3 separate regions of the Homo sapiens genome follow, and all the other regions are linked to region 1. The links come from fine-mapping of genetic effects on gene expression. A gene starts in region 1. Each other region holds a variant in brackets. All regions are shown on one strand. Distances are from middle to middle.

Region 1 (2,752 bases):
TCCCTCTCTGACACAGCCGGACGGGGAGCAAGTGGGGGACTTTGTGAGACACAGCAGGTGCCTCCCGTCGCAAAGGAGACAGACACAGACCGCTTCTTCTGTTCAGGGGTTCAGCCAGGAGCAGGCTCTCTCTCTAGCCCCTCACAGGGACTAGAGAGGCTCTTGGTCCAGTCCTTCAAGCCACTCTCATCACTTCTGAGGCTACCGGCAACCCCAGGATGGGCCCAGCCCACTCACCCCGCAGCACCCTCGATGGTCTCCATCAACACCAGGAAGGCTTGGTCCGCCGGGCCCTCCAGGAAGAAGCTGGCCCACAGCTCCTCCAGGCGGCCATGGGGCAGCAGCTCCAGCCAGGCTGGGCTCAGCCTGCTGGCAAGACATCTGAGGACAGGCGAGAAGTGGGCCGAGGCAAACTCCTCCTTCTCCCTCGGGAGCGCTGGAGGCTCCATCTCACCGAGATACCGCTTCAGGGACTCCAGGGTGCAGAAGATGTGGCCGCCATCCTCCGAAGACGAGAGGGCATGAATGGCTTCCCGGACGGCGAGTCGAACCTCTGAGGGTGCTGGCTCCATCCTGCAGGACAGATCTGGGCGTCACGGGAAGACGACCTGTGACATGGACACAGGGCTCAGCTTGGGGCACGGAAATAATCCACACAAGCTCAGGAAGCCCCTCGGTGAGCGCCCCGAGACCCCACACCCCTCAACCCTGGTCCCACCCAACCCTGTCCCGCCTCCTTCCCCTCCAGTGCCTGCCGGTTTCCACCCAGAGTTCGCTCCTCCGCTCGGACCCCAACGCTACCAGCCACTGCAGGGCTTCTCAACCCGGGCCACTGTGCCCAGGGAACATTCTCAGTTGTCTCAACCGGGAGTGCCACTGGCGCGAGAGGGAGGTGGAGGCTAGAGATGCTGGTGAGTGTTCCCCGGGCACAGCGCGGCCCCACGCGTCCTCGCACCCAAGGCGGGAAACTCGGCCCGCGGGAGCTGCCGGCCCTCCCGGCTCCCTGAGCGGTGAGAGGTGGCTCCAGTCGCCATTCCTCCGCCCCTTAGAAACCAACAGCTTACGGGGAACACGGGTTCGGGGCTAGAGGAGCCGCACGCGGACCCGCCCCCGATCCAGGCCCGGACCCCGACCTGTACCCGGACCCCGACCGGACTCCTACCCGACCTGGACCCGACCCAACCAGACCTGGAGCCCAACCCGACCCAACCGGACCCCCGATCCCCGATCCCCGACCCCCAACCCGACCTGGACCCGGCTCCCGGGTGACTGCAGCGCGCTCAGGCGCCGCGCGCCACCGATTCGCTGCAGCCGATTCCCCACGGCCGCCGCGGCCCCGGACGAAACGCGATCGCGGCCCAGCCGGTTGGCCCCGAGCACGAGTTCCTGGGTCCGGGCGAGGCTCCCGCGGGTTTTCTTGAGCCTCTGGGGCGGGTCTCCGCGGGCCTCTCAGCGCGAATCTGCGGAGGACGCCAGGCGGGAGGGCGCATCTGCGCCTGCGCTGCGCGGGGACGGGGCGGAGCCTGGACGCGGGAGCGGGGGGCGGTGGGGTGGGCGGGGCCTGACGCGTGAGTGGGGCGGGGCCTGAGGGCAGGGCCGCGCTTCCCCACGTGGCTGCGAGCTGGGTTCGCTGCGCCCGGGTGGTGGGTTCTCGCCTTAGTTTCTCCCATCTCGGTCGTCCCTACCCTGGAGTGATGTCAGCCGTCTCTTCCCTCCGCCTCGGGTCCCACATTCTCTCCAGAACGCCGAGCGTTCGCTCTAAGGCAGATGTTTACCAAGACAGGCCTGGCTCGTCTTCCCCGGATGTAAGGCTCTGCTTTCAAGGGTCAGAGGCCAGTAAGGGAAACGCACGGTACACAAGGAAGTAAAAGAGCAGTTGAGATCATGTCAGATCTGAACAATTGCAGCTCCGTAAATGAGGCCGGGTCGTGGAATAAAAACTGCGACCAGTAGGGTAAGCGCTAGACGCATGTGGCTCTGTAAATTAACTGAAGTTAAATAAGTCCAGTTCCCTTGCAGCACTAGCCCCATCTCAAGGGCTCGGTACTACCTTTGGCTGTGGCCGCCAGGCTGGACAGCCGGACACTGAACATTTACAACATGCAGTGCCTTCTGTACACCGCAGCGGAGTGTGGGGGGCTTCATCTTTGTGGAGGGGGCAATCCAGGAAGACACCTAAAGAGGCGCCATTTCAGCAGTGATGGATGTGGGAAAAGCTGGGGAACAGTTATCCATTCAACAAACATTGATTAAATGCCTGCTTGGTGCACCAAGCCTTCTGAGCAACAAATGATGCAAAGTTCCTGCTCACCTATCGGGGGAACAGATAAAGTACATACGAAATATGCCAGGTGACAGGCCTCGAGCAGAAAAACTGGCAGAGGCCGGGCCCGGTGGCTCACGCCGGTAATTCCAGCACTGGGAAGCTGAGGTGGGAGAATCGTTTGCACCCAGAAGTTCAAGAATGGGAAAAATAGTGAGACCCTGTCTCTACAAAAAATTTAAAAATTAGCCAGGCACGGTGTCATGAGCCTGTGATCCCAGCTACTCAGGAGGCTGAGGTGGGAGGATGGCTTGAGCCCGGGAGGTTGAGGCTGCAGTGAGCCATGTTCACTGCCACTGCACTCCAGCCTGGACAACAGAGCAAGACCCTGTTTCAAAAAAAAAAAAGGAATCAAAATAAAAAACCGGTAGGGTAAGAAAATAAGAGCCAGTGGCCGGGCACAGTGGTTCACACCTCTAATCCCAGCAC
Region 2 (2,752 bases), 100 kb after region 1:
GTGTGTGTGTGTGTGTGTGTGTGTGTGTGTGTGTATCTTTAAGGGACCAAGAGTACTGCTGAATAGGTACATATATATTGTGTGTGTGTGTGTGTGTGTGTGTGTGTGTGTGTATTTTTTTTTGGAGACAGAGTCTCACTCTATCACCCAGCCTGCAGTGCGGTGGTATGACCTTGGCTCACTGCAGCCTCCACCTCCTGGGTTCAAGCGATATCCTTTTTTAAATTTTTTATTCTATTTTTTGAGACGGAGTTTCACTCTTGTTGCCCAGGCTGGAGTGCAATGGTGCCATCTCGGCTCACTGCAACCTCCACCTCCTGGGTTCAAGCGATTTTCTTGCCTCAGCCTCTCGAGGAGCTGAAACTACAGGCATGTGCCACCACGCCTGGCTATTTTTTGTGTTTTTAGTAGAGACAGGTTTTCACCATGTTGGCCAGGCTGGTCTCGAACTCCTGAGCTCAGATGATCCGCCCGCCTCAGCCTCCCAAAGTGCTGCCACTGTGCCCAGCCTGAATTGTATGTTTTTAATTTACATTTCCTCCCTGCTTTTTCCACATATGACTGTTTTTTATGTTGCAGGCCAAGCGGAGAGACTCGCCGGCCGAGGGTGGCCCTAGGGGCAGCGAGCAAGACAGCAAGCAGGTACAGGCCCCCAAGGTTTCCCACCCTCGTGCCTGATGTCGCGTTAGGGCTGAGGCTTCCCGCCCTCGTGCCTGACCCGTGGCATCGCGTTAGGGCAGCGCTCATGCATCCTTGGTCCCGCCCACTCTCGGCTCGCAAAGCCATCTGGTTGACGTCCGCTTGTTGTAGAATTAGCTCTTTCCTGGTACCCCCGTGTTTGTCTGTTTGAAACGTTCGTGTTATACCTTGGAAACAAAGCCACAACATCGTGCTCGGGGAAATAAGAGGGGCCCTTTGGAGCCCATCTGTGTTACTTTTTTGGGCTGCGAGGGAAGGATGCAGATGGGGCCGTTCCAACAGCAGAACTTGCCGGGCACGGTGGCTCACACCTGTAATCTCAGCACTTTGAGAGGCCAAGGTGGGCGGATCACGAGGTCAGGAGTCCGGGACCAGCCTGGCCAACATGGTGAAACCCCATCTGTACTAAAAATACAAAATATTAGCCAGGCATGGTGGCACGTGCCTGTAGTCCCAGCTACTCGGGAAGCTGAGGCAGGAGAATTGCTTGAAGCCGGGAGGTGGAGATTGCAGTGAGCCGAGATCGTGCCACTGCACTGCATCCTGGGTGACACTGTGAGACTCTGTCTCTGAATGAATGAATGAATGAATGAATGAGGTAGTTTTAGTTGGGCACAGTAGCTCACACCTGTGGTTCCAGTACTTTGGGAGGCTGAGGCAAGAGAATTGCTGGAGCCCAGGAGGTGGAGGTTGCAGTGAGCCAAGCACTCCAGCCTGGGCGACAGAGTGAGGCCCTGTCTCAAACCAAACCAAAACCAATCCCCAAGCAGCAGCACTTGACTCTCTCAGTTCTGGGGGCTGAGTCCGAGCTTGAGCTGTCCAGAGCTGGCTCCTGAGGCCCCCCGGGTGCAGATGCTGCCTCCTCCGTGTCCTCTGGGGTCAC[C/A]CCTCTGTGCGTGGGCATCCCTGGGGTCTCTTCCTGAGGACAGTGGCTGCGTAGGGCCCTGCCCCCACACCTCATTTCATTGTTGCTGTTGTGTTTTTACAGATTCTTAAATTTTTTGAGGCAGGGTCTGGCTGTGTCACCCAGGTGTAGTGCAGTGGCCAAGTCCCAGCTCACTGCAGCCCGGGACTCCCAGGCTTGAAGCAGTCCTCCCACTTCAGCCTTCTGAGTTGCTGGGACCCCAGGCATACACCACCAGGCTTGGCTAATTTTTGTATTTTTTTAGAAATGGGGTTGCCCAGCCTGTTCTCGAACTCCTAGGCTCAAGCAATCCTCCTGCTTTGACCTCCCAAAGTGTTGGGATTACAGGTGTGAGCCTCCACGCCTGGAGTAAGAACTCATTTCACCTTAATTACTCCTCACAGGCCCTATCTCCAAATTTAGTCACACCGGGGGTCAAGGCTTCCACGTAGGAATTTGGGGGGGACACGTTTGGTCCATAACAAAGACACTGTGCTGACTGAAATGAGCCAGTTACCGAAAGGCAAAACCTGCGTGATTCCACTCACAGGAGGTCTCTAGTGGAGTCACATTCACAGACAGCAGGTGGCATGGTGGGGGCCGGGGCCGGGGCCGGGGGAGGGGGCAAGTGTTCACGGGGTCAGAGCTTCCGGCTGGAAGATGAGGAGTTCTGGAGGTGGACGCGGTGATGGCTGCACAGCGGTGTGGATGGAATTCATGCCACGTACTACACCAAACCATGGCCACTGTAGCAAATTTTATATTATATTTCACTATAATACAGAGAAGAAAAACCAGGCAGGCAGTGCTGGTGGTAGCTTGGGGTGTGCTGTCCCCACGGGGCGAACGGTGCTGGTGTTAGCGGAGGTGCGGTGTCCTCATGGTGTGAACGGTGCTGGTGGTAGCGGAGGTGTGGCGTCCCCACGGGGAGAACGGTGCCGGTGTTAGTGAAGGTGCGGGATCCTCACGGAGCTCTCGTCTGACCCCTCTCACTGTGCCCATCCCTCATGTGGATGGACTCCCACACCAGGCCCGTCATCTGTGGCCATTGTGCCTTGGGGTACAAGGAGTGACATGGATGTTGATGATTTTCAGGTGATCGTTTGGGCTGAAGTCACAGTGTGCGCATCACCCTGGCCAGCTCCCGGGCAG
Region 3 (2,752 bases), 560 kb after region 1:
GTTCAGGGCGGGGCACGGGGTCGGTCACTGGGACCCTGCGGCCCGCAAAGCAGCATCCTCAGGCAGTGCGTGCCCCGAGGCAGCAGCCAGCCGGCTCTAGGTGGGCCAGGCTTCCAGGGCCCCCACCCAGCCCGGCCACTGGGCACATGTGTTTCTAAAATTAATTAAAACTAAATGAAATAAAAAGCTCCAGTCCTTGGTTGCGTTGGCTGCACCTCATGTGCTCCGTGGCCGCATGTAGCTGTGGCTTCCCCACTGGGCGGTCCCAGACCTTTTTTTTTTTTGAGATGGAGTCTCGCTCTGTCGCCCAGGCTGGAGAGCAGTGGTGCGATCTTGGCTCACTGCAAGCTCCACCTCCTGGGTTCAAGTGATTCTCCTGCCTCAGCCTCCCGAGTAGCTGGGATTACAGGCGCCCGCCACCACGCCCGGCTAATTTTTGTATTTTTAGTAGAGATGGGATTTCACAGTGTTGGCCAGCCTGGTCTCCAACTCCTGACCTCAGGTAACCCGCCCACCTCAGCCTCCCAAAGTGCTGGGATTACAGGCATGAGCCATTGCGCCCGGCCCCAGACCATTCTCAGCCCAGCAGTCTGCAGAGGCTGCCAGTCAAAGATCCTAACATTTCACCAGCAGCAAACCCTGCCTTCTGAGGGCTCGTGGCTCGGCGTGGGCTCCCCGGGACATGCTCTCACAATGCTGTGGGTGTGAGCGGGACCCGCCTGAAAATACACACGGCTGCTCTTAGTGAAACGGCCGCTGGCCGGGAAGTCCGCACAGCCCCCGTCGCTAGTGTCTTCCTTTTTCTCAGGATGACCACACCATCCACAGAATGTTTACGTTTCTTTTCTTTTCAAGGCAGAGTCTTGCTCTGTCACCCAGGCTGGAGTGCAGTGGTGCAATCTCAGCTCCTTGACCTCCCGGGCTCAGGCGATCCTCCCGCCTCAGCCTCCCGATTAGCTGGGACTACAGGCGCACTGTCATGGCCAGCTAATTTTTAACTTTTTGTGGAGATGGGGTCCCACTGTGCTGCCCAGGCTGGTCTTTGGGTCTCCGTTCACATCTCTCTACTGTTGTAAGAGCCCCTCCAGCGAGCTCGCCTGCTGCTGTCCTGGGCTCTGTGTCCCAGGGTCCTGCGCCCCTGTTCAGACGGACGCGACTGCTGCTGTCCTGGGCTCTGTGTCCCAGGGCCCTGCACCCCTGTTCAGACGAACACGACCGCTGCTGTCCTGGGCTCTGTGTCCCAGGGTCCTGCGCCCCCGTTCAGACGGACGCCACCACTGCTGTCCTGGGCTCTGTGTCCCAGGGTCCTGCGCCCC[C/T]GTTCAGACGGACGTGACCACTGCTGTCCTGGGCTCTGTCCCAGGGCCCTGTGCCCCCGTTCACACGGACGCGACCACTGCTGTCCTGGGCTCTGTGTCCCAGGGTCCTGCGCCCCCGTTCAGACAGAGGCGACTGCTGCTGTCCTGGGCTCTGTGTCCCAGGGCCCTGTGCCCCCGTTCACACGTACACGACCACTGCTGTCCTGGGCTCTGTGTCCCAGGGCCGTGCGCCCCCGTTCACAGACGGACGTGACTGCTGAGCAGGATGAAGCTGCGTTCGTCAGGGCCGCGCTTTCCAGGACGCAGGAAAACCACAATATTTGTTAAACCCCATTCTGCCGTCTGTGTTTCTGCTGGAGTTTAGATAGAGCTGAGCTTTGAGGGCTGCTGAGTTTGGTAACATTCACTTCAAAGAAGGAGCCTGACGGTAATGAATTCCGCAGCCCCGAATGTGGCCGCTTCCTGCCGCCCTGCAGCGAGTGCACCTTTTGATATTCAGTGAGCCTGGATCTGGGAGTGTCTCGAGCTTCCAGCCGCCCTTGCGCATTGGAAAGGATGCGGGAACCCGAGAGGACCCGCAGCAGCGGGTGGCAGGGCTCCGTGGGGCTGCCTGCTTTCCCTCCAGGACCAGACCGCCTTTGCCGGCACCCTCCCGACAATGCACCGTCCCCCAAGTGTGGGCCTGACCCCCAGTTTGGCCCCATCCCCTGAGTGTGGACCCTGTCCTCCAGCGTGGTCCCCGTCCCCCATGGGGCGCCATGCCTAGCACCTGGTTCTGTATGGAGAGCGGGCTCTGGGAAGGGGCTCCCGTCTGCAGAGTTTGGTGAGGTTGAAACAGCAAAGGCCACAGCCGTTGTTCTGGGACTGAGACCAGGGCCGGTCCCCAGTGCTTCTGGAGACGCTTTCTGGCCCCTCCCAGGCCTGGGGCAGCTGGGAGGGATGGCTGGGCTTTTCAGGCGCGGGATGGGACAGCATTGTGACCCCACTGGCCGCTGAGATGTGACCAGGGGAAGGAGACACTCGTGGTGAGGGGTTCTGGAACCAGGGGCAGCCTTGTGTGAGTAGGGGGCAGAGTGCACAGGCGCCAGGGCAGGGCTTCCTCTGGCTCAGCTCCTGGGCCACTTTGCCAGGTCTTTGTGCCCAGATAGAGTCCCAGAGGAAGACCAACAGGTTCCCAAGGCCTTTGGAGTGTTTTAGGCCCCCAAAATCGTTTTGTAATTTCTTTGTGATTTTAGCCTGATGGACTTGGGTGTGTACGGGTGTCTACCTCCAGGCGATCCTACCCCCATCTTGCACCACTGGGCCCCCATGGGGGTGTAGGGATGGGCCCGTGGGGGCGTGGGGATGGGCCCGTGGGGGTGTGGGGTGGGCCCGTGGGGATGTGGGGAGGGGCTCGTGGGGGCGTGGGGATGGGCTCGTGCAGGGAACCGGGCTGT

The links. PIP is the estimated chance that this variant, and not a neighbour inherited with it, causes the effect.
Region 2: its variant is fine-mapped to the expression of TELO2 in putamen (GTEx, PIP 0.97).
Region 3: its variant is fine-mapped to the expression of TELO2 in subcutaneous fat (GTEx, PIP above 0.99).

Annotation. Positions count from the first base shown.
Region 1 is chr16:1,492,102-1,494,853 of GRCh38, reverse strand. It overlaps TELO2 (telomere maintenance 2), which reads right to left and starts at 1,494. Exons shown (of 21, transcript NM_016111.4): 1 at 1,249-1,494; 2 at 238-608. The coding sequence starts at 572. RefSeq lists silencers at 1,057-1,256, 1,267-1,316, 1,487-1,576 and enhancers at 789-1,689, 1,787-1,836.
Region 2 is chr16:1,388,522-1,391,273 of GRCh38, reverse strand. It overlaps UNKL (unk like zinc finger), which reads left to right. Exons shown (of 15, transcript NM_001372107.1): 9 at 580-642. Among named protein-coding and RNA genes, the nearest start is that of UNKL-AS1, 18 kb to the left of the region's middle. The variant C/A (reference allele first, on the strand shown) is at 1,583.
Region 3 is chr16:928,653-931,404 of GRCh38, reverse strand. All of the region lies in intron 3 of LMF1 (lipase maturation factor 1), which reads left to right. The region is part of intron 1 of LMF1-AS1 (LMF1 antisense RNA 1); the gene reads right to left. Among named protein-coding and RNA genes, the nearest start is that of LMF1-AS1, 9.0 kb to the right of the region's middle. RefSeq lists enhancers at 1,445-2,026, 2,027-2,610. The variant C/T (reference allele first, on the strand shown) is at 1,317.